Regions from separate parts of the Homo sapiens genome. Here regions 2, 3, 4, 5 and 6 are each linked to region 1. Evidence: fine-mapped expression QTL. A gene starts in region 1. Each other region holds a variant in brackets. All regions are shown on one strand. Distances are between the middles of the regions.

Region 1 (4,086 bases):
CAGGTTGGGGATGTGGCAGATTGGTCTGCGAGTGGGGCCAGGCTTTGAAGCAACTTGGAGAGGAGTTGTGGAAAAAGGGCAGGGTCTTAAGCATGTGGGATGTCAGAGTCTCTCTTGGTCCTGAGAGACGCAGGCCAGACAGTAGGACTAGAAACCACGTATCTAGAGTATGCCATGAGCAGGTGGGACTGAGGAATTCCGGGTGGGGCAAGGTCCCAGCTGCATCAGATGGAATCAGTGGGCATGATCTGGTGTCTGGAAAGGTGGCTTCGGGGACTCATTGTTGTGCCTTTCACTAACCTGCCCACCCACTTACCTTTCCCTAGCTGAAGTGGTGTGCTTGGGTCGCTGTCTACTGCTCCTTCATCAGCTTTGCCAACTCTCGGAGCTCGGAGGACACGAAGCAAATGATGAGTAGCTTCATGTGAGACTTGCCCTACAGAACAAGTGACTCTTGAGTAAGGGGTGGGGGGACCCCAGCCTGGCCATCCTAGACTGACACCTCTCTCCTGTCTCAGGCTGTCCATCTCTGCCGTGGTGATGTCCTATCTGCAGAATCCTCAGCCCATGACGCCCCCATGGTGATACCAGCCTAGAAGGGTCACATTTTGGACCCTGTCTATCCACTAGGCCTGGGCTTTGGCTGCTAAACCTGCTGCCTTCAGCTGCCATCCTGGACTTCCCTGAATGAGGCCGTCTCGGTGCCCCCAGCTGGATAGAGGGAACCTGGCCCTTTCCTAGGGAACACCCTAGGCTTACCCCTCCTGCCTCCCTTCCCCTGCCTGCTGCTGGGGGAGATGCTGTCCATGTTTCTAGGGGTATTCATTTGCTTTCTCGTTGAAACCTGTTGTTAATAAAGTTTTTCACTCTGGCTGTCAGCCTCTTCTGTTCAGTGGGGTGTTCCTCCTACCTGGCGGGAAGGGCTCTAGCCCCATAGGCCTGGTGTGGGGCCCCAGTCTGGAGGCTTCTGGCTGTTCATTTGCTTACTTCATAAACCTTGTGTCTTAAGTCAGGTGCTAGGGACAAGACAGTGACTTCTGCCCTCTGGCAACTCACCAGATGGCCCTGCTGACCTAGATAATCTAGGCTTTGGTTTCCTTTTTTTTTTTTCCTTTTTAAGAAAGAAAATGGTCTTGATCTGTCATGCAGGCTGAGTGCAGTGGCACAATCTATGTTCACTGCAGCCTCAAACTCCTGGGCTCAAGCAATCCTCCCACCTCAGCCTGCCACGTAACTGGGACCACAAATGCGTGCTACCATGCCCAGTTAATTCTTGTTTTTTTTGAGACAGAGTTTTGCTCTTGTTGCCCAGGCTGGAGGGCAATGGCATGATCTTGATCTCGGCTCACTGCAACCTCCGCCTCCCAGGTTCAAGTGATTCTCCTGCCTCAGTCTCCCAAGTAGCTGGGATTACAGGCATGTGCCACCATGCCCAGCTAATTTTTGTATTTTTACATTTTGTGTAAAATTACAAATTTTGTGTTTTCAAACCCGTCTCTACAAAACAACCCATGTTGCCCAGGCTGGTCTCAAACTCCCAGGCCCAAGTGATTCACCAGCCTGGCCCTCCCAAAGTGCTGGGATTGCAGGCTTGAGCCACTGCGCCTGCCCTGGGCTTTGTTTTCTTATCAGAGAATGAACTGGTAGGAATTGGGAAAGGCATGAAAGACTCGGGGTCCTTCCCCACTTGTCAGACCCTCTTTTCTCTCCGGAACACCCAGGGATCCTTCTCAACCAGGCTGGATCCCATCCCTGGTACTCCAGGGGTATTTACCCAACGTCCCAATCCCCACAGTATAGGACTCTTCATCAGATCCTCCTCTTAGGCAAGCTAGGTCCTTCCAGGACCCTAGCGCTGAAGGTCCATGGGACGGACACCCTGGATTCCCATGGACACACTACACCGGCTAGGAAAACCCGGCCCCCTTAGGAAAAGCACTTCTGCTCCTACCGGCATTAAGAGGCATTCCGTCTTGGAATTCCGGCATTAAGAGGCATTCCGTCTTCATAGCCCGTGAGACGCCAGTGTCACCTTTAGCCCAACCAGTGCCCTGAGGGTGGCATTTTCCTACCTTCCTGTAACGACCCCCGGGATTGCCCAGGGCTACAGCCTCTCTCCCGTGAGCCTCCAGACCGCGCCCTGGCCCCGCCCCCCACCCCGATTGGCCCGGCCGGGTCTGGGGGCGGGGCGTTTGCCCGGCCTTTCCAGGGCCGGGGAACCCCAGGAGGAAGCTGCTGAGCCATGGGCGCCTACGCGCGGGCTTCGGGGGTCTGCGCTCGCGGCTGCCTGGACTCAGCAGGCCCCTGGACCATGTCCCGCGCCCTGCGGCCACCGCTCCCGCCTCTCTGCTTTTTCCTTTTGTTGCTGGCGGCTGCCGGTGCTCGGGCCGGGGGATACGAGGTGAGTGGGGCCTCCGAGCTGAAACGTACAGGAGGCAGAGTGAAACCCAGAATACAGTCTAGAGGTGTGGGTGGGTCTGTCCTGTGGGTGTCTAGTGAATGGCTGATGATATGACAGTGTGGTCTGAGTGCGTGCTTTGTGTCATTGCGAGGTCTGGCTGTGCGCATCTGAGTATAGGACTGTGTCTGATTGTACCTGCCTCCGTGTCTCCGGGATGCTTGCCTAGACTTTGTCTGCACTTAACTGTGGGATTGGAGGGGCAGGAGGTGGCAGGGGGTGAGCAGTGTATGTGTGGGGGGAGGTGCTGGCTGAGAGCTGGGACTCTGGAGTCTGCCTGAAATTCCAGCCTAGCTCTTACACTTCCTGAGTGTGTGACGTTGGGCAAGTCACCTATCCTCTCTAAGCCTCAGTGCCTTCATCTGGAAACTGGGGATAACATCACCCCACCTCCCACGGTGGCCGTCTGCTGTCGGCAAATGCTGAACAAACATCAGCTACTTCTATTATTATTTTCCCGGAGTGTGAATGAGAGCTGCCCTGTGGGGTTGTGCAAAGTGGAGTTGTATCTATGAGCACAACTATGTATGTGTGTGTCCTGCCTGGGAGGGCCTGGCCTCCTCTGCACATAGGCGAGATCAGGCCTCTCTGAGTCACTCACCTCTAGATCAAGACTTACTCTGCAGCCCCCGACCTCGGGGGTTATTGACAAGGTATGTGTGTTTGGGGTCCCTGTGCAGACATGCCCCACAGTGCAGCCGAACATGCTGAACGTGCACCTGCTGCCTCACACACATGATGACGTGGGCTGGCTCAAAACCGTGGACCAGTACTTTTATGGAAGTGAGTAGAGGATGGGGACTGGTCCCTGGGATCCCCATGGTCCCTGTAATCCCTCTGGGTCCTGGACATTAGGGTGGGGCCAGTGCTACCCTAATATCCAGGGTTTGGGCTCCTCTGTCTAGGAATAACCCCCTTGGCTCTGCTGTTCCCTGAGAGCCTTATCCCTGTTATCCACAGTCAAGAATGACATCCAGCACGCCGGTGTGCAGTACATCCTGGACTCGGTCATCTCTGCCTTGCTGGCAGATCCCACCCGTCGCTTCATTTACGTGGAGATTGCCTTCTTCTCCCGTTGGTGGCACCAGCAGACAAATGCCACACAGGAAGTCGTGCGAGACCTTGTGCGCCAGGGTGAGCCTACCCCAAGGAAGTGAAAAGAGGAAGCCCAGCCCAGCTTCTGCTTCTGCATCTCTGGTTTCTGAGATTTGTCATGCCACGTGCAAGCTGTATAACATGCGTGTCGCTCCGCCTGCCTGGACTCTCCATTTGGAGACCTCCTATACATCCCACAAAGCCCCACCTGCTGTGCATCCTCTGGGAAGCCTGCCATGCAGGGGGCCTCTTTCCCATATCTGGGAACTATGGCCTGGGAGCGACCCCTCTTGTCCTTCCGCCAGAAATGTGTACACAGGCAGGCTTTCACATTCCCAGTATCACCCACCCTACTCCCACTCCTGGCTCTGACCGCTGACCCTGACCTTGCCTGTCCTGGCACAGGGCGCCTGGAGTTCGCCAATGGTGGCTGGGTGATGAACGATGAGGCAGCCACCCACTACGGTGCCATCGTGGACCAGATGACACTTGGGCTGCGCTTTCTGGAGGACACATTTGGCAATGATGGGCGA
Region 2 (4,086 bases), 110 kb after region 1:
AGCTTGGAAAGCTTCTAATTTGGCTGGATCAGCATTAGCCTTGTTCCCAGAAGCATCTTTTCCCTTCCCTCTTCCTCCACATGAAAGCGGAGGTTCTCCCGCAGGATGACAGACCCAGCAGCTGGGTTGGTACAGGCTTTCTCCACTTCTGGGCCTACACAGTCCTTCAAGAACAGAACATCCTTGCCCAGCAGAGATTTGAGTTCTACAGCAACTGGCTCTGAGGAGTACTTGTCAGGCATAGGGACACCATCAGGCCAACCTAGGTGGCTTATAAGGACTACTGACTTGGATCCATTGTCCAAGCAGAATTTGATGCTTGGGACAGCAGCCTTAATCCTCCAGTTGTTTGTTACCTGGTTGTTCTTCATAGGAAAATTGAAGTCGACTCTCATAACGACCGGCTTCCCTTTCACGTCCAGCTTGTCCAGCATCAGCTTGTTAGAAAGCGACATTTTGGAAATACAGCTGGGGAGACAGCTTGGTAATTCAGACAGCCAGGGAGCCGGCTACCGACGTGTGCTCGGGAGGTTTGCAGAATCCAGTGGTATACTTTTTTTTTTTGGAGATGGAGTCTCGCTCTCTTGCCCAGGCTGGAGTGCAGTGGTGCGATCTCCGCTCACTGCAAGCTCTGCCTCCTGGGTTCACGCCAGTCTCCTGCCTCAGCCTCCCGAGTAGCTGGAACTACAGGCTCCCGCCACCACACCCGGCAAATTTTTTGTATTTTTAGTAGAGACGGGGTTTCACCATGTTAGCCAGGATGGTCTCCATCTCCTGACCTCCTGATCCACCCACCTCGGCCTCCCAAAGTGCTGGGATTACAGGCGTGAGCCACCGCACCTGGCCAGTGGTGTACTTTTTAACAAAAATTTATTTTGAGGTCATTGCATATTCACATGTAGGAAATTATACAGCCATTTTCTCTCAATGGTAACATGTTGCATAGCTGTAGTACAATGTCCTAATCAGGAAATTTCATCTCACCCACCTCCGTCAACCCAATGAACAAGTACAGAGAGTACACTGTTCACAGAGGTGGTTCAACAATTCTACTTCCAAAGAGTATTTCCCACCAGTTTTTTTTCTTTTTTTATTTTTTGAGACAGAGTCTCACTCTGTCACCTAGGTTGGAGTGCAGTGGCACGATCTCAGCTCACTGCAGTCTCTGCCTCCTGGGTTCAAGCGGTTCTCGTGCCTCAGCCTCCTGAGTAGCTGAGGGATTACAGGCACTCACCACCAAGCCTAGCTACTTTTTGTGTTTTCAGTAGAGACAGGGTTTCGCCATGTTGGCCAGGCTGTTCTGGAACTCCTGACCTCAAATGATTCACCAGCCTCAGCCACCCAAAGTGTTGGGATTACAGGCGTGAGCCACTGTGCCCCATCAGTTGTTTTTTTTTTTTTGTTTTTTTTTTTGAGACACAGTCTCGCTCTGTCACCCAGGCTGGAGTGCAGTGGCGCAGTCTCAGCTCACTGCAAGCTCCGTCTCCCAGGTTCACGCCATTCTCCTGCCTCAGCCTCCCAAGTAGCTGGGACTACAGGCACCCACCACCACGCCTGGCTAATTTTTTGTATTTTTAGTAGAGACAGGGTTTCACCATGTTAGCCAGGATGGTCTCGATCTCCTGACCTCGTGATCCACCTGCCTTGGACTCCCAAAGTGCTGGGATTACAGGCGTGAGCCACCGTGCCTGGCCCCAGCCCCATCAGTTTTTAAAAGTTATTTACAAAAAGTATTATTTGCCGGGCGCAGTGGCTCATGCCTGTAATCCAAGCACTTTGGGAGGCCTAGGTGGGTGGATCATCTGAGGTCAGGAGTTCAAGACCAGCCTAGCCAACATGGTGAAACCCTGTCTCTACTAAAAACACAAAAGGTAGCTGGGCATGGTGGTGCACCCCTGTAATCCCAGCTACTCAGGAGGCTGAGGCAGGAGAATTGCTTGA[G/A]CCCAGGAGGCGGAGGTTGCAATGAGCCGATATCGTGCCACTGCACTCCAGCCTGGGTGACAGAGTGAGACTCCGTCTCAACAAAAACAAAAACAAAAAACAGTGTTATGCTACTACTACTTTTAAATACATGAAGCACTTCCAAATATCTAGAAATACTAGATATTTCATCTAACTTGTCCACCATGTACACGCACTGTTAAATAAAATTCCACACATGTAACCGTGGTTATAATCTGAGGTATCTCCTAAATATGACCATTTTGGCCTTGAACCATTCCCTCCTCACTTCCTTCTCTCTGCTTTCAATCCAGTGGACAAGTACACGCATGTGTAATGCTTAGAGATGGTTGAACAAACTCCTATCCAAAAGTCATCCACAGAAGACAAGTTTCCTATGAATTTCAACACAAAGTATACAAAATATGCTAAATTTACTAAGTACTTTATCACACACTGGCAACCTCTTTAACATCCAGCAATTAGATGTTGCAAAATCAGGATGCATTTGCCCATTGTATATGCTATATACAGAGCAAAACAAAATGCACAAAACATACAGAAAAATAGTGTCTGAAAATGTCCAATTATGAACACACTGGCCTATTACCTTTTGCAATTTCTTCCCTCCCACCTCCTCTAAACTATCGAACAACTATACACAGTACTACACTGCTCACAAAGGTGGTTAAACAATTCAATTTCCAAAAGGCAGTGTTTCCTATAAATTTTAACAAAAAGATATTTACAGTGATATTTCACTACCTCTATATTTAATATACGTGGGACACTTCCAAACATCTAGGTAGACTAGACATTTGAAGTAAGGAGTTAATTTTTCCACTATGTAACAGCAGTCTTGAATAAACTGCAAACATGTGACAACAGTTATAATTTGAAAGTCTTCCAAATATGAACATTCTGGCCTAGAACCCTTTCTGTCTCCATCAACCCAGTGGGCAAAAATGCTCAAATTTTCAGAAGACAATATTTCATAGGAATTTTATTTTTTATTTTTATTTATTTATTTATTTATTTTTGAGACGGAGTTTCGTTCTTGTTGCCCAGGCTGGAGTGCAATGACAAATGTAGAGTTCGTAAATGAATATATTTTGCATATTTTGTTTTAAAATTCCTAGGAAAGGCCAGGCGCCTTGGCTTGCACCTGTAATCCCAGCAGTTTGGGAGGCTGAGGCCAGCAGATCACCTGAGGTCAGGAGTTTGAGACCAGCCTGGCAAATGTGGTGAAACCCAATTTCTACAAAAATACAAAAAAATTAGTGGGGCGTGGTGGTGGGTGCCTGTAATCCCAGCTGCCTGGGAGGCTGAGGCAGAAGAATCACTTGAACCCGCGACGTGGAGGTTGCAGTGAGCTGACATCCTGCCATTGCACTCCAGCCTGAGCGACAGAGTGAGACTCTGTCTCAAAACAAACAAACAAACAAAACAAACAAACCCGGGAGCGGTTGCTCACGCCTGTAATCCCAGCACTTTGGGAGGCTGAGGCGGGCGGATCACGAGGTCAGGGGGTCGAGAGTAGCCTGACCAACATAGTGAAACCCCGTCTACTAAAAATATAAAAATTAGCCGGGCGTGGTGGTGTGGCCTGTAGTACCAGCTACTTGGGAGGCTGAGGCAGGAGAATCACTTGAACCCGGGAGGCGGAGGTTGCAGTGAGCTAAGATTGCGCTACTGCACTCCAGCCTGGGCAACAGAGAAAGACTCTGTCTCAAACAAATAAAATTAAATAAATAAAAAAAATTTTAGGTTGAGGGAGAAGTTGAGCAGCTTTTTCCTATTATAGACACAGGCCTTCTTCTTCTTTTTTTTTTGAGCTGGAGTTTCACTCTTGTTGCCCAGGCTAGAGTGCAATGGTGCGAGCTCGGCTCACTGCAAGTGATTCTCCTGCCTCAGCCTCCCGAGAAGCTGGGATTACAGGCGTCCGCCACCACGCCCGACTAATTTTTGTATTTTTAGTAGAGACCGGGTTTCACCATGTTGGTCAGGCTGGTCTTGAACTCCCGACCTCAGGTGATCCATCCGCCTTGGCCTCCCAAAGTGCTGTGATTACAGGCGTGAGCCACCACCGTGCCTGGCCTACACAGGCCTTCTATAGACGGTCAGTAAATCTTCCCAAAGGGTGCT
Region 3 (4,086 bases), 140 kb before region 1:
ACTCGAGGACTCAAGCGGTTCTCCTACCTCAGCTTCCCAAAGTGCTGGGATTACAGGCATGAGCCACCACGCCTGGTCCCCTTCCCCTTAACAAAGGGACAAATGCCCACCTTGGGTCTCAGTCCATCACTGGGGCTCCAGAAAGACAGCAAAGTGGGAAGCGGGGAAGACAGCAGCAATCCTATGGCCTGGAATTCAGCTCTATCACTCACTGGCTGTGTGGCCATAAACAAATGGCACCACTGTCTAACACTTGGCCTCTTTCACTGTGGAGTAGGGTGACCAGAGCAATTTAGAAAACCTCCAGCCAGGCACAGTAGTTCACACCTGTAATCCTAGCTATTTGGGAGTCCAAGGCAGGAGGATCACTTAAGCCCAGGAATTCAAGACCAGGCTGGGCAACATAGGGAGACCCCATCTCTTTAAAAAAAGAAGAAAAAAAGGGCCAGGGGTGGTGGCTCATGGCTGTAATCCCAGCACTTTGAAAGACCAAGGTGGGAGGACTGCTTGACTCCAGGAATTTGAGACCAGCCTGGGCAACATGACAAGACCCCATCTCTATAAAAACAAAAAATAGGCTGGGCACGGTGGCTCATGCCTGTAATCCCAGCACTTTGGGAGGCTGAGCCAGGCAGATCACCTGAGGTCAGGAGTTCAAGACCAGCCTGACCAACATGGAGAAAACTAGTCTCTACTAAAAACACAAAATTAGCTGGGTGTGGTGGCACATGCCTGTAATCCCAGCTACTCGCGAGGCTGAGGCAGGAGAATCGCTTGAAGCCAGGAGGTGGAGGTTGCGGTGAGCCGAGATCGCACCATTACACTCCAGCCTGGGCAAAAAGAGCGAAACTCCGTCTCAAAAAATAAACAAAAATAACAAATAAAAACAAAAAATAAGCAAAATAAAATGATAAATGACAGAAAGGAAAAAAAGAAAACCTCAGAAGTGTGCTCAGCCCTGGCCATTTCAACATTAGTACCATGGTCACGTGTCTGCTCACCATTGGGGTAGCCTGAGCCATAATCAGTATCCAAGTCCTGCAGTTTCTCCACGAACTGCCATTTCTTCACGGCCTGGTCCCGGGCCACCTGTGGGCAAAACAGGCACCTGGAATCTCCCTCCTTCCCTTTGGTGGCCATGCCTGGCCCCTATATAGTGGGATGGTGGAAGCCAGCCATGGCTAGTAGGGTACTGACCTTGGCACAGATGCTGGCAGCACTAACCACCGGGTAGAGGGCATCTGCTTTGGCCTTGACCGTCACCTCAATCCCGGGAAAACTTTGCTGCAGCCGCGCCTGGTATGTCTCTGGCATCCCTACGGTGTCCACGAATACCTGCCACAGCAACAGACACATATTAATTGAACAAACAACTGTACCAATGCTCTAGCCTCACAGCCCTGGCACGTTCTTCCTGCTACCCAGAATCCTCTTCTCCAGCACGTCCCCAGGATGGATCAATCAGGGATTTCAACTCGAACATCTCCTCCTAGACCAGGCAAAGTTGTTCAGGCCTGTGATCCCAGCACTTTGGGAGGCTGAGGCGGGAGGATCGCTTGATCCTGGGAGTTTGAGGCCAGGCTTGGCAACACAGTGAGACCCCATCTTTATAAAAACATAAAATAAATACAATAAAATAAAGAAAAAACTCACCTCCTGAAGAGGCTTTCTCTATCACGCTGCTTTTACTCTAACTTATTTAGCACCTACTGCATGCCACATACTGTTCTAGGAACTGAGGTGGCAGAAAACACTAGAAAAAAATTGGTAGAGTGC[G/A]TTAGCACAAGCCTGTAATCCCAACACTTTAGGAAGCCGAAGTGGGAGGATCGCTTGAGGGCAGGTGGTTGAGACCAACCTGGGCAACATATGGAGACCCTGTTTCTACAAAAAATAAAAAGTTAGCTAGGTGTAGTGGTGAATAAAGGCTTGAAGGAGGTGAGGAAGTGAACTGTGCAGAGATCTGGGGAAGAGGGCTCTAGGTGTGAGAACAGCCAGTACAAAGGCCCTGAGCTGGGACCAGGTTCATGATGCTGGGCCCATGCATGGGGGCCTTTGGCTGCAGCACCGAAGAGAGGGTCCAAGAGCTGCTGGGGGAAAGTGGTATCTCCACAGCACTACTGTTTTCAGAAACAACCTTTATTTTTTGTTTACCAGCTGACCATCTTTCATGTTTTATTTTTTTATTTTTTATTTTTAGTAGAGATGGGGTTTCACCATGTTGGTCAGGCTGGTCTCGAACTCCTGACCTGATGATCCGCCCGCCTCGGCCTCCCAAAGTGCTGGGATTACAGGCGTGAGCTACTGCGCCCAACCTCCAGCTGACCATCTTTCTGCCCAGGCTAGGCCCTGAACGCCTACGGGTAGGGCCCTTGTCTGTCTACACCAGTTACTGTATCGCCAGCTCTGCATTTGGGCCTGGTCCTCAGGTCCCTCCTCAGCAGGGTCTACCTTGCTATAATTCCTTTCTTTCTTCTTCTTTTTGTGGAGATGGAGTCTCGCTATGTTGCCCAGGCTGGTCTGGAACTCCTAGCCTCAACCAATTTGCTCACCTCAGCTTCCCAAAGTGCTGGGATTACAGGCGTGAGCCACCATACCCAGCATACAATTCCTACGTCAAGGTTATTTTGCCTTGTTATTCTCTCAGAACGGTCCATTCTTTCATTGAGAGCATTCGAGGCAATGCTGATTTATGTTTTTCTCTGGTAATTTAATGTAATTCTGCCCCACTCGACTGTGAATTTTCCTGATTTAATTTCCACTGTGATCGGAAAACTAAATGTCGAGATGTGCATTTCAAAAAGACTACCTTCTGTTGCTGCTTGGGGAACAGATTGGAGGGGATAGGAGGGTGAGGGACGAGAGACGACACTCAGCAGGTGTCCAGGGAGTGGGGGGTGTCCTGGGCTAGGACAGAGGTGACAGGTAGACAATGTAGGATTTGTTCTGGAGACTGAGCCTTTAGGATGAGGGAGAGATTAGATGGAGACGGGACTAGGGGCTACACTGTGGTCGTCAGTGTGGCACACATTTAGGGCAGAAACAGGAGCACGAAATCAACAGTAGCAATGAATATGCCCGAGGCACTCCAGACGTATCTGATGCTGAATCTGCACACTGCACATTTTTGCCCACATTTATTTTTTATTTTATTTTTATTTTTATTTTTCGCTCTGTCCCCCAGGCTGGAGTGCAATGGCGCGATCTCACCTCACTGCAACCTCCGCCTCCCGGGTTCGAGCAATTCTTCTGCCTCGGCCTCACCAATAGGTGGGATTACAGGCACCCGCCACCATGCTGGGCTAATTTTTTGTATTTTCAGTAGAGATGAGGTTTCACCATGTTGGCCAGGATGGTCTTCAACTCCTGACCTCAGGTGATCTGCCTGCCTCAGCCTCCTGAAACGCTGGGATTACAGCCGTGAGCCACTGCGCCTGGTCTCCCATTTTTAGTTTATTTTTTATTTTTTATTTTTTTGAGACAGGGTCTTGCTCTGTTGCCCGGGTTGGAGTGCAATGGCACAATCTTGGCTCACTGCAACTTCTGCCTCCTGGGTTCAAGCGATTCTCCTGTCTCAGCCTCCTGAGTAGCTAGGATTACAGGCGCCTGCCACCACGTCCAGCTAATTTTTGTATTTTTAGTAGAGACGGGGTTTCACCATGTTGGTCAGGCTGGTCTCGAACTCTTGACCTCCGGTGATCTACCCGCCGCGGCTTCCCAAAGTGCTGCGATTATAGGCGTGAGCCACTGCGCCCTGCCTCCATTTTTGAGTTGGGGGGCTTCCTTTGTCACCCAGGATGGAGTGCTGTGGCATGATCATGGCTCACTGCAGTCTCGAACTCCTGTTTTGTCCCCATTTTATCCTGAGATGACCAAATGGGGACAACTTACAGTTAACTCACCTGGGTGACGTTCACGCCCTGGTCCAATGCATACTGTATAAGCCCAGTGGCTGTATCATGTGACAGGGAGTTCAGGTTGTATTTGACCCTGTGGTGGGGAACAGAGCCCAGTTAATCTCATTCTAGGAACAAAGCTTGGTCAGCCCATGCTGGCTGCCCCTCCCGGGGACCCCTCACCGCCCAAGCA
Region 4 (4,086 bases), 46 kb after region 1:
TGAGACATAGATGGTCTCGCTCTGCTACCTAGGCTGGAGTGCAGTGGTACAATCACAGTTCATTGGAGCCTAGTCCTCCCGGCTCAAGCAATCCTCCAACCTCAGCCTCCTGAGTAGCTGGGACTACAGGAACACACCACTACACCTAGGTAAGTATTTTGTGTATATTTTTTGTAGAGATGGGGTTTTGCCATGTTGCCCAGGCTGGTCTCAAACTCCTCAGCTCAAGCGATTCACTAGCCTTGGCCTCTCAAATTGCTGAGATTACAGGCAAGATCTTCAATTCTTTATGAGATAAATTCTTATTTCTTGTTTGTTTGTTTGTTGTTTTCTAAGAGACAGGGTCTTGCTCTGTCACCTAGGCTCAAGTGCAGCAATCCTAACTCACTGTAGCCTCAAATCCCTGGGCCCCCAAGACATCCTCCTGCCTCAGCTTCACGAGTAGTTAGGACTACAGATGTGCAACACCACTCCCAGATAAATGGGTTTTTTTTCTTTCTTTTTTTTTTTTTTTTTGAGACGGAGTCTCACTCTGTAACCCAGGCAGGAGTGCAGTGGTGCGATCTCGGCTCACTGCAACCTCCGCCCCTCCAGGTTTAAGCAATTCTCTGCCTCAGCCTCCGAAGTAGCTGGGATTATAGGCGCGTGCCACCACGCCCAGCTAATTTTTTGTATTTTTAGTAGAGATGGGGTTTCACCATCTTGGCTAGGCTGGTCTTGAACTCCCGACCTCGTGATCCACCCTCCTCGGCCACCCAAAGTGCTGGGATTACAGGCGTGAGCCACTGCCTCCGGCTGGGGTTTTGTTATATTGTCCAGGTTGACCTTTAACTCTCGGCCCCAAGTGATCCTCCTGCCCCGGCCTCCCAAAGTGTTGTGATAACAGGTATGAATAACCATACCCAGCCCACAGCCTAATTTCTTATTACCCAAATCATTCAGCATTCCTTAAGATATGGGATTAAATGAGGTGGAGGTTTTTTTTTTTTTTTTTTTTTGTTTGAGACAGTCTTTTTTTTATTATTTTTTTTATTTATTATTTTTTTTAATTTATTTTTTTATTGATAATTCTTGGGTGTTTCTCACAGAGGGGGATTTGACAGGGTCATGGGACAATAGTGGAGGGAAGGTCAGCAGATAAACAAGTGAACAAAGGTCTCTGGTTTTCCTAGGCAGAGGACCCTGCGGCCTTCCGCAGTGTTTGTGTCCCTGATTACTTGAGATTAGGGAGTGGTGATGACTCTTAACGAGCATGCTGCCTTCAAGCATCTGTTTAACAAAGCACATCTTGCACCGCCCTTAATCCATTTAACTCTGAGTGGACACAGCACATGTTTCAGAGAGCACAGGGTTGGGGGTAAGGTCACAGATCAACAGGATCCCAAGGCAGAGGAATTTTTCTTAGTGCAGAACAAAATGAAAAGTCTCCCATGTCTACTTTCTACACAGACACGGCAACCATCCGATTTCTCAATCTTTTCCCCACTTTTCCCGCCTTTCTATTCCACAAAGCCGCCATTGTCATCCTGGCCCGTTCTCAATGAGCTGTTAGGCACACCTCCCAGACGGGGTGGTGGCCGGGCAGAGGCGCCCCTCACCTCCCGGACGGGGCGGCTGGCCGGGCGGGGGGGCTGACCCCCCCCACCTCCCTCCCGGACGGGGCGGCTGGCCGGGCAGGGGGGCTGACCCCCCACCGAGGTGGAGGTTTTAATAAGTAAATACACATTGAGAATCTTCTATCCCCTTTTGTTATACATGAGAGGCCAGGAGGCTTGTGGAAATCCAACTTTTAAGAAGGTCTAGCTGCCTATATCGTCCTGAAGTATTTGAGGCCATCAGAAGCACTCAGATTCTGCTGACTGAATGGAAATACTCTTTTAGAGACGTATTAATTTCAACTTGTTTCCGATATATATATATCCCTATGTGTTGGCATTACAGGCATGAGCGACCACGCCCGGCTGTGTGTGTAATATCTATCATAGACCCAGTTTTTCCTTTTACTTTCTGTCCCATTTCGTGAGACTAGGAAGTTACTGGGAAGACAGCTCAGGCACAAGGAAGGGGCCCTCACAACTTAGACTTTCACAAAATCGTTATACCCATGAGCCTCAGAACTGCTTCCAACCAATTTTTAGCACAAATACATATACACATTGAGATAAAATGTCAGAAGAGCACTTTCTGGAAGATCCATAATCATGTCATCTGGGCTTTGCTGACCTTGAAGAATAGATTGACAGTATCAATTTTCAGGGGACTTCACTGATGTCCACAATGGTCTGATGGTGAATTTGCCCATGATTATAAAATTAACAGGTAATTTCATACCTCCAAAAGAACATAAAA[T/C]CTGGGTCAGGATGGCTCATGCCTGTAATCCCAGCACTGTGGGAGGCCGAGGCAGGTGGATCACCTCAGGTCAGGAGTTCGAGACCACCCTGGCCAACATGGAGAAACCCTGCCTCTACTAAAAATACAAAAATTAGTTGGGCATGGTGGTGCATGCATGTAATCTCAGCTACTCGGGAGGCAGAGGCAGGAGAATCGCTTGAACCCGGGAGGCAGAGGTTGCAGTGAGCCAAGATCGCACCACTGCAGTCCAGCCTGGGCAACAGAGCGAGACTCTATCTCAAAAAAAAAAAAAAAAAAAAAAAAGAACATAAATCCCCTTTCTCCAGTTTCAGGAGGAAGTGATCCCAGACAGACACTCTAGGGGCTGTTGTCCCAGGTTCTCTCATTTCCATGCACTCATGTGCACCATACGTTAAAAGATCCACACAGTTAGAAGGGGTTTTCTTAAGTAATTAGGACTATGGTCTGAGCAGGAAGAAATTTGGCTCCAGGGAGCTCTCCCTCGTGACAAGTCCATCTGCATGCCTGGGTGCTCTCTGTAAGGTTTATTTACATTTACATTTAATAGAAAATAAACATTTTGGCCAGGCGTGATGGCTCATGCCTATAATCCCAGCACTTTGGGAGGCTGAGGTGGGCAGATCGTTTGAGCCCAGGAGTTCGAGACCAGCCTGGGCAACATGGTGAAACCCTGTCTCTATAAAATATACAAAACTTGGCCAGGCGTGGTGGTGCACGCCTGTGGTCTCAGCTACTTGGGAGGCTGAGGTGGGAGGATTGCTTGAGCCTGCAAAGTCAAGGCTGCAGTGAGCCATAACTATACCACTGCACTCCAGCCAAAAATAAATAAAGACAGGCCAGGTGCGGTGGCTCACACCTGTAATCCCAGCACTTTGGGAGGCCAAGGCAGGTGGATCACGAGGTCAGAAGATCGAGACCATCCTGGCTCTACTAAAAATACAAAAAATTAGCTGGGTGCCGTGGCGGGCGCCTGTAGTCCCAGCTACTCGGGAGGCTGAGGCAGGAGAATGGCGGGAACCCGGGAGGCGGAGCTTGCAGTGAGCCGAGATCGCGCCACTGCACTCCAACCTGGGCGACAGAGCGAGACTCCGTCTCAAAAAAATAAATAAATAAAATAAAAATAAATAAATAAATAAAGATTTCATATATAGCCTTTTACTAAATAATAAAAAGAAAAAAAAACAGAAAAAAAAGGTTCATCTCCTTGCTAATGAGGATATAAATGTCAAATAGTTCCCACTTCAAACTGAGTAGGAAGACAAAACTAGTCGATTAAGATAACATTAGTGGCCGGGCGCGGTGGCTCACGCCTGTAATCCCAGCACTTGGGGAGGCCGAGGCAGGTAGATCATGAGGTCAGGAGATCGAGAGCATCCTGGCTAACACAGTGAAACCCCGTCTCTACTAAAAATACAAAAAATTAGCCAGGAGAAGTGGCGGGCGCCTGTAGTCCCAGCTAGTCGAGAGGCTGAGGCAGGAGAATGGCGTGAACACGGGAGGCGGAGCTTGCAGTGAGCCCAGATCGCGCCACTGCACTCCAGCCTGGGAGACAAATCGAGACTCCGTCTCAAAAAAAAAAAAAAAAAAAAAAAGATAACATTAGTGTTGATGACTACAGAGAACAATCATGTACAAACGGAGGATCAACTGATACACTCCACCACTTTTTTTAAGTTTGTAAATTTAAACTTGACCAAGATCCAGTAATTTTTT
Region 5 (4,086 bases), 38 kb before region 1:
GGCCTGTAATCCCAGCTACTTGGGAGGCTGAGGCAGGAGAATTGTTTGAACCAGGAGGTGAAGGTTGCGGTGAGCCATGATCGTACCACTGCGCCCCAGCCTGGGCGACAGAGCGAGACTCTGCCTCAAAAAAAAATAAAGATAACCCGGGGCTTTGGGATGAGAGGCTTCTGTTGTTTCCCCTCCTGTGCCTGCCTTTACCTGGCTCTGTGAAATGAGTCTGGGCCAGTGATTTAAACTCTAAGCCTCAGTTTCCCTATATGTTGTGTGCGGCTGACTCTTCTCTCCATACGGTGGGTGTGGCTGGGCCCAATCAAACTGCCCCCTCTTGGTTCCCTTTCCTTGTAGGCTGCATGCAGGGCATGGTGCCCTACCTGCCTGAGCTGATCCCGCACCTGATCCAGTGCCTGTCGGATAAGAAGGCCTTGGTCCGCTCCATCGCCTGCTGGACGCTGAGCCGCTATGCCCACTGGGTGGTCAGCCAGCCACCCGACATGCACCTCAAGCCCCTGATGACAGAGCTGCTCAAACGCATCCTGGATGGCAACAAGAGGGTACAGGAGGCGGCCTGCAGGTGACCCTGGACCCCTGATCCCACAGCCCCCACTCTCCCCCGGCCACCCTCTGGGAAGTGATGACACCTGTGACTGTTGATGTGGAACTGATTTATCGCGTATTCGTACTGGCTGATCCTGAGTTGCCCTCCCCAACTGCCCATGGCCCAGTGTCACCTGCCATGGTCCACTGAGCCCCCGCTTCATCCTCCCTCCCACCAGTGCTTTTGCCACCCTGGAGGAAGAGGCCTGCACGGAGCTGGTGCCCTACCTCAGCTACATCCTGGACACCCTTGTCTTTGCCTTTGGGAAATACCAGCACAAGAACCTGCTCATCCTCTATGACGCCATTGGCACCCTGGCCGACTCTGTAGGCCACCACCTCAACCAGCCGGTGAGACCCCAGAGCGGCTCCCGCCTCCCGATCCCCGTGCCCCTGGGCATCCAGTGACCTGGTGGCAACCCCGTGTTGCACGCCAGGGACGTGGCCGTGACCTCGACAGGCAGACAGACAGACCCGGCCCCGCCCTCGCCCTGCTCCCAGTCTAGTGGGGGAGAAAGACAGTTATGAGACAGCGTGGTAAGTGCTGTGCTTCGGGAACCAGGAGGTGGTAACCCAGGCTCCCGGGGGGTGGGGTGGGGCGGGCGGTGCTTGGACAGGTGAGAAGAATGAAGGCCTCGAGGTCTGGCCAGATGGCAGGCCTTTCAGGGTCCCATGAGCCACGGTGAGGCGCTCAGGCCTCATCACTCGGGCAACAGGTACCTGAGTCACAGTCTGCCACCCCGACCCAGGGAGCGCCCATTTCGTGCTCCCTCTCCAGGAATACATCCAGAAGCTGATGCCCCCACTGATCCAGAAGTGGAATGAGCTCAAGGACGAAGACAAGGACCTCTTCCCCCTGCTGGAGGTGAGTGGGCTCCTGCCCCTCACCCGAAACCCATCCTGCCCACCCTGCCTGAGTTCTCCCCACCTGCCTTCCTCCCTGCCAGTGTCTGTCATCGGTGGCCACCGCCCTGCAGAGTGGCTTCCTGCCTTACTGTGAGCCCGTCTACCAGCGCTGTGTCACCCTGGTGCAGAAGACACTGGCTCAGGCCATGGTGAGCAACCCTAGGCCCGTCACCTGTGCTTCTGCATTGGCCTGCCTCGGGCCTGCTCCACTTACCCGTGCCCCTGTCGGCATCTGTGTCTAGATGTACACCCAGCACCCTGAGCAGTATGAGGCTCCCGACAAGGACTTCATGATCGTAGCACTGGATCTGCTCAGCGGCCTGGCCGAGGGCCTGGGTGGTCACGTGGAGCAGCTGGTGGCCCGCAGCAACATCATGACATTGCTGTTCCAGTGCATGCAGGTGGGTGGGGACCCTGGACAGTGATGACACCCAGCAGCCTGCGTGGGCTGCCCCTGGTGGGGAGTCAGGGCCTGGTTGTGCCCAAAGGAAATCAGGGAAAAGGTGCTGTTCTAATTATTTTAAAGAGTAATCCTGGAGGCCGAGGCAGGATTGCTTGAGCCCAGGAGTTTGAGACCAGCCTGGGCAACATAGTGAAACCCCAGTTCTAAAATTAAAAAAAAAAATTTTTTTTAAAGCAAACAGTATTGAAAATAGAAAATGTGAGGCCAGGTGCTCACGCCTATAATCCAGCACTTTGGGAGGCTGTGGCAGGTGAATCACTTGAGGTCAGGAGTTTGAGAGCAGCTTGGCCAACACGGTGAAATCCTGTCTCTACGAAAAATACAAAAATTAGCCAGGCATGGTGGTAGGCGCCTGTAATCCCAGCTACTTGGAAGGCTGAGGCAGGAGAATTGCTTGAACCCAGGAGGCAGAGGTTGCAGTGAGCTGAGATCATGCCACTGCACTCCAGCCTGGGCAATAAACTGAGACTCTGTCTTCAAAAAAAAA[G/AG]AAAGAAAAGAAAATAGAAAATGTGAAAGCCCAAGTCCCTGCCCCAGCACAGTTGGCTCTCTGTATCTGTGGGTTCTACATCCCAAGATTCAAGTAACCTCAGATTGAAAATACTCAGAGGAAAAATTACATCTGTACTGAACGCATACAGAAGTTTGTTCTTGTTATTATTCCCTAAACAATACAGTATAACAACTATTCCCATACTGTTGACATTGTATTAGATATAAGTGATTTAGAGATGATGCTAAGTGTACAGGAGAATGTGCATAGGTGCATATGCAAACACTATGCCCCCCCCACCGCCCCCCACCTGTTTTTTGAGACAGAGTCTCACTCTGTCACCCAGGCTGGAGTGCAATGGTGTGATCTCGGCTCACTGCAACCTTCACCTCCAGGGTTCAAGCAGTTCTCCTGCCTTAGCCTCTCAAGAAGCTGGGACTACAGGCGTGTCCCACTATGCCTGGCTAATTTTATTGTATTTTTAGTAAAGACAGGGTTTTGCCATGTTGGCCAGGCTGGTCTCAAACTCCTGACCTCAAGTGATCTGCCTGCCTCGGCCTGCCAAAGTGCTGGAGATTACAGGCATGAACCACTGCGCCTGGCCCTAACACTGTGCCACTTTATATCAAGGACTTGCACATCCGTGGATTTTTATATCTGCAGGGACCTGGAAAGAATCCCCCACGGACACTGAGGGATGACCGTTGGGGCACTGCCATCTCCCATTTGCAGATGTGGGCTGGAGGCTAGGGAGGTTAAGGAACAGCTAGGAGCTCTAGAACTGGAAAGTGGCAGAGGCTGGACATGCACCAGGGACTGTGCCCCCTGAGCTGTCCTGGTTAGAAGGAGGGGAGCCTAGCCACACTGATCTTACTTGAATCCCCAGGACTCGATGCCTGAGGTCCGGCAGAGCTCCTTTGCCCTCCTGGGAGACCTCACCAAAGCCTGCTTCATCCATGTCAAGCCCTGTATCGGTACGACACTCGCCTTGTCCCTAACCCATGACCCCAGCCCCGGCCTCAAGTGATGGAGAGCAATACCCGGGGATGACTGTGACCACATTGGGATGTATTCGTACTGTCTGATGGGGCCTGCTGGACTAGGTCCTGCAGCTTACCCTGGCTGGCCCTCCTTCTCAGCACCCCTGTTTCTCCCCACCAGCCGAGTTCATGCCCATTCTGGGCACCAACCTGAACCCAGAGTTCATCTCCGTCTGCAACAACGCCACCTGGGCCATTGGTGAAATCTGCATGCAGATGGGTGAGTGCCCTGCAAGTGGCAACACGCGCCCCCCATTAGCCTGTTCTCAACCTGGGGGCGGGAGCCTAGCTCTGACTGACAGCTTCCTTCAAGGCAAGTCTCTTGGGGGTCGTCAGGGGTGGAGCCAAGCAGAAAGGTCATTTGTGATTGGCTTCTCTAAAGAGGAGGGATAGGAGGGCTGTTCTGATTGGACCGTTTTGTGTAGTTGGCTAAAAGACTCATTCGGATTGGTTGGGTGACTTTGGCTTTTTTTTTCCTTTGACTTGGGCAGCGTGTTGTCACCTTAGCGACTCCAGAGAAGCCTCTGTTGTTTGGAGGGTGTGGGTCTGTCCCTGGTTGGCCAGGGATTCTGGGTGGGGATTAGCCGGAG
Region 6 (4,086 bases), 37 kb after region 1:
CCACATGAGGCCAGTAGGAAAAATCCTAGTTACAGTGTGTCAGTATTCAACAATCTCTTTATTCAGAGAACAACTGAAAAACTATACACAAATTAAAACTAATTGTATATTAAAAATACACTTCTACTAACACTGGTCTTTAAAAGAAAAAAAAAATACACTTCAGGCCGGGTGCGGTGGCTCAAGCTTGTAATCCCAGCACTTTGGGAGGCTGAGGCGGTCGAATCACGAGGTCAGGAGATTGAGACCATCCTGGCTTAACACGGTGAAACCCCATCTCTACTAAAAATACAAAAAAAATTAGCTGGGCATGGTGGCGGGCGCCTGCAGTCCCAGCTACTGGGGAGGCTGAGGCAGGAGAATGGCGTGGACCCGGGAGGCGGAGCTTGCAGTGAGCCGAGATCACACCGCTGAACTCCAGCCTGGGCAACAGAGCAAGACTCCGTCTCGAAAAAAAAAAAATACACTTCAGTTTACTCATGAATCAAGACATCAAGAGAAAGAGAAAAGTTTTACTAACTGATTTAATGAGAAAACACAACCTTTTAAACTTTTGACCACTGCTTAAAGAGTACTTACAGAATTATCTCACTTCCAAGACTTCTTGGAAAAGTAGTTAAGTTACAATTCATAGTCCAGAGATGTACTTGAAGAATGAGCCAGTGATAAAAAATTTTTAACTTTTTTTTGGTGTGTGGGATGGAGTCTTGCTCTGTTGCCCAGGCTGGAGTGTAGTGGCACAATCTCAGCTCACTGCAGCCTCCACCTCCCAGGTTCAAATGATTCTCCTGCTTCAGCCTCCCAAGTAGCTGGAATTACAGGTGCATGCCACCACGCTCAGGTAATTTTTGTATTTTTAGTAGAGATGGGGTTTCACCGTCTTGGCCAGGCTGGTCTCGAACTCCTGACCTCAGGTGATCTGCCTGCCTTGGCCTCCCAAAGTGCTGGGATTACAGGCATGAGCCACCATGCCTTGCCTTAACTTTTATATCGTGTGTGATGAATTTATATCATGGTGTGAATTTTCTGGAGCATTTTACAGGCAGAGATTGCTTAATCATGGGTATATGTTCTGAGAAACGTGTTGTAGGTGATTTCCTCATGGTACAAACATCACAAAGTGAACTTACACAAATCTAGATGGTATAGCTACAACACATCTAGACTATATGGTACAGTCTATTGCTACTAGGCTATAAACCATACAACATGTTGTTGTACTGAACACTGTAGGAAATTGTAACAAAATGTTAAGTATTTATGAGTCTAAACACAGAAAATACACAGAGTAAACATGCAGTATAAAAGATAAAAAAGGATGCACCTGCATAGGACACTCCATGAACATAGCTTGCAGGACTAGAAGTTGCTCTGGGTGAGTCAGTTGAGTGGTGAGTGAATGCGAAGGCCCAGGATGTTACTGTACACTAATGGAGAATTTATAAACACTGTACACTTGGACTACACTACATTCATAAAAACATTTTTTCCTCAATAATGAATAAACCTTAACTTACTGTACATTATTTTCTTTATAAACTTATTTTTAAAAACTTTGTAATAATTTAGCTTAAAACACATTGTACAGCTGTACAAAAATATTTTATGTCCATATTCTATAAGCTTTTTCTATTAAATTTTTTTAAACTATTTTTGTTAAAGACTAACTAAGACACAAACACACATTAGTGTAGGACTACACGGGGTGAGGATCATCAATATCATTGTCTTCTGCCTCCATGTTTTGTCCCGCCAGAATACGTTCAGGGGCAGTCCTGCACATGGAGCCGTCATCGCCTATCATAACAA[A/T]GTTTTTCCGGGAATATCTCCTTAAGGACCTGCCTGAGACTGTCTTACTGTTAAAAAAACACAGGAATACATTCTAAAACAGGATTGTAAATATATAAACCAGTAACTTAGCCATTTATTATCAAGTATATATTGCACATCTGTGCTGTAATTTTTTTTTTTTCGAGACGGAGTCTCGCTCTGTCACCCAGGCTGGAGTGTAGTGGTAGATCTCAGCTCACTGCAATCTCCACCTCCCGGGTTCAAGCGATTCTCCTGCTTTGGCCTCCCAAGTAGCTGGGACTACAGGCACACCAGAACGCCCAGCTAATTTTCGTATTTCTAATGGAGACAGGGTTTCATCATGTTGACCAGGCTGGTCTTGAACTCCTGACCTCAACTGATTCTCCCACCTCAGCCTCCCAAAGTGCTGGGATTACAGGTATGAGCCACTGTGCCCAGCCAATTTTTTTTTTTTTTTTTTGATACAGTCTCACTGTCACCCATGCTGGACTGCCATCACGTGATCTTGGTTCACTGTAGCCTTGAACTCCTGGGCTCAGGCAATCCTCCTGCCTCAGCCTCCCATGTAGATGGGACTACAGGGTGTGCTACCACACTTAGAAAATGTTTTTATTTTTTGTAGAGACAGGGTCTCACTAGGTTGACCAGAGTAGTCCTGGCATCAAGCAATCCTACTGCCTTAGTCTCCCAGTGTTGGGATCACAGGTGTGACCATGCCCAGCTGTGTTGTACTTTTTTTTTTTTTTTTTTTTTGAGACAGAGTCTCGCTCTGTTGGCCGGATCTCAGCTCACTGTCAGCTCGGCCTCCTGGGTTTATGCCATTCTCCTGCCTCAGCCTCCCAAGTAGCTGGGACTACAGGCGCCCACCACCACGCCCGGCTAATTGTTTGTATTTTTAGTAGAGATGGGGTTTTACCGTGTTAGCCAGGATGGTCTTGATCTCCTGGCCTCGTGATCCGCCCGCCTTGGCCTCCCAAAGTGCTGGGATTACAGGCGTGAGCCACCGTCCCCGGCCGCTGTCTTGTACTTTTATACAACTGAAAGTGCAGCACGTTTACACCAGCACCATAAACACTTAAATAATGTGCTGCACTATGGTGTTACTACTGCTACTAAATTGCGGTTGATAGAAATGTTTTAGGTGTTATATAATCTTATGGGGCTACCAACCTATATGGTCCATTGCTGACTGAAACATGATTATGTGGTACCTGACTATACATGAATCATCTTGTATCTCGCTTTCTATATTACTTACATTGACAGGATTTCTCTCTTCAGTGGGAATTTTCACAACTTTGAAAGCATCTGTTAGAATTGAAAACTTTCTCCTATTTCTCACATTTATAGAGTTTCTATCGATTGTGCATTCTCATATGTTTTTTTAAGGATGTGGACACACTGAAGGCTTTTCCACATTGCTTACATTCAAGAGGTTTCTCATAATTGTGAATTCTTGTATGTCTTTGAAAGGAACTGTGAAGACTAAAGGCCTTCCCACATTCTTTACATTTATAGGGTTTCTCTCCAGTATGCATTCTCATGTGTCCTTGAAAGCTTGTGGGATAAATAAAGGCCTTCCCGCATTCCTTACATTCATAAGGTTTCTCCCCAGTGTGAGTTCTTTTATGTATCCGAATGTAACTAGAACAACTAAAGGCTTTTCCACATTGTTTACATTCATAGGGTTTCTCTCCAGTGTGAGTTCTTTCATGTGTTCGTAACGCACTAGGAAAAATGAACACCTTCCCACAGTCCCTACATTTATAAGGTCCGTCTCCAGTGTGGGTGATCATGTGTCTTCGAAAGTTCTCAAGAGAAATGAAGGTTTTTGCACATTCCTTACACTCATAGGGTTTTTCTCCAGTGTGATTTCTCTTGTGGATTTTCAAATCTAGAGGATAATTGAAAGTTTTCCCACATTTTTTACATTCGTAGGGTTTCTCTCCAGTGTGAGTCCTTTCATGTATTCGAAAGTAACTGATTCTACTAAAGGCTTTCCCACATTCTTTACACTTATAGGGTTTCTCTCCAGTATGCACTCTCACGTGTACTCGAAAGGCTGGGCGTGCACTGAAAGATTTCCCACATTCTTTACATTTATAGGGCTTCTCTCCAGTATGAATTCTTTCATGAATTTGAATGGAGGTGGAACATCTGAAGGCTTTACCACATTGTTTACATTTATAGGGTTTCTCTCCAGTGTGAATTCTTTCATGTACTCGTAAAAAACTGGGAAAAATGAATGCCTTTCCACATTCTTTGCATTTATAA

The links.
Region 2: its variant is fine-mapped to the expression of MAN2B1 in whole blood (TOPMed, PIP above 0.99).
Region 3: its variant is fine-mapped to the expression of MAN2B1 in whole blood (TOPMed, PIP 0.98).
Region 4: its variant is fine-mapped to the expression of MAN2B1 in lung (TOPMed, PIP above 0.99). The same link has a PIP of 0.9 or more in T cells, atrial appendage, blood mononuclear cells, esophagus muscle, monocytes and nasal epithelium.
Region 5: its variant is fine-mapped to the expression of MAN2B1 in whole blood (INTERVAL, PIP above 0.99).
Region 6: its variant is fine-mapped to the expression of MAN2B1 in whole blood (TOPMed, PIP above 0.99).

Annotation. Positions count from the first base shown.
Region 1 is chr19:12,664,858-12,668,943 of GRCh38, reverse strand. MAN2B1 (mannosidase alpha class 2B member 1) reads left to right here and starts at 2,202. Exons shown (of 24, transcript NM_000528.4): 1 at 2,202-2,401; 2 at 3,139-3,241; 3 at 3,419-3,592; 4 at 3,959-4,086. The coding sequence starts at 2,243. WDR83 (WD repeat domain 83) reads right to left here and starts at 2,137. Exons shown (of 11, transcript NM_001099737.3): 1 at 1,952-2,137; 2 at 317-436. WDR83OS (WD repeat domain 83 opposite strand) reads left to right here. Exons shown (of 4, transcript NM_016145.4): 3 at 327-424; 4 at 519-871. The coding sequence ends at 585. RefSeq lists a silencer at 2,060-2,339 and enhancers at 2,590-2,719, 2,740-2,869, 2,930-2,979, 3,520-3,569, 2,636-3,583 and 2 more.
Region 2 is chr19:12,555,940-12,560,025 of GRCh38, reverse strand. It overlaps the pseudogene PGK1P2. Among named protein-coding and RNA genes, the nearest start is that of LINC02926, 6.3 kb to the right of the region's middle. The variant G/A (reference allele first, on the strand shown) is at 1,942.
Region 3 is chr19:12,807,320-12,811,405 of GRCh38, reverse strand. RNASEH2A (ribonuclease H2 subunit A) reads right to left here. Exons shown (of 8, transcript NM_006397.3): 3 at 4,077-4,086; 4 at 3,900-3,987; 5 at 1,198-1,335; 6 at 1,002-1,089. Among named protein-coding and RNA genes, the nearest start is that of RNASEH2A, 2.8 kb to the right of the region's middle. The variant G/A (reference allele first, on the strand shown) is at 1,777.
Region 4 is chr19:12,619,324-12,623,409 of GRCh38, reverse strand. The region is part of intron 1 of ZNF791 (zinc finger protein 791); the gene reads right to left. Among named protein-coding and RNA genes, the nearest start is that of ZNF791, 10 kb to the right of the region's middle. The variant T/C (reference allele first, on the strand shown) is at 2,350.
Region 5 is chr19:12,703,058-12,707,143 of GRCh38, reverse strand. TNPO2 (transportin 2) reads left to right here. Exons shown (of 26, transcript NM_001382241.1): 14 at 349-574; 15 at 777-948; 16 at 1,376-1,462; 17 at 1,545-1,652; 18 at 1,746-1,904; 19 at 3,343-3,430; 20 at 3,618-3,716. It overlaps SNORD135 (small nucleolar RNA, C/D box 135), which reads left to right and starts at 3,473; the gene lies at 3,473-3,547. It overlaps SNORD41 (small nucleolar RNA, C/D box 41), which reads left to right and starts at 626; the gene lies at 626-695. RefSeq lists enhancers at 3,091-3,699, 3,700-4,086. The variant G/AG (reference allele first, on the strand shown) is at 2,454.
Region 6 is chr19:12,628,342-12,632,427 of GRCh38, reverse strand. ZNF791 (zinc finger protein 791) reads right to left here. Exons shown (of 4, transcript NM_153358.3): 4 at 1-4,086. The coding sequence ends at 3,168. Among named protein-coding and RNA genes, the nearest start is that of ZNF791, 19 kb to the right of the region's middle. The variant A/T (reference allele first, on the strand shown) is at 1,810.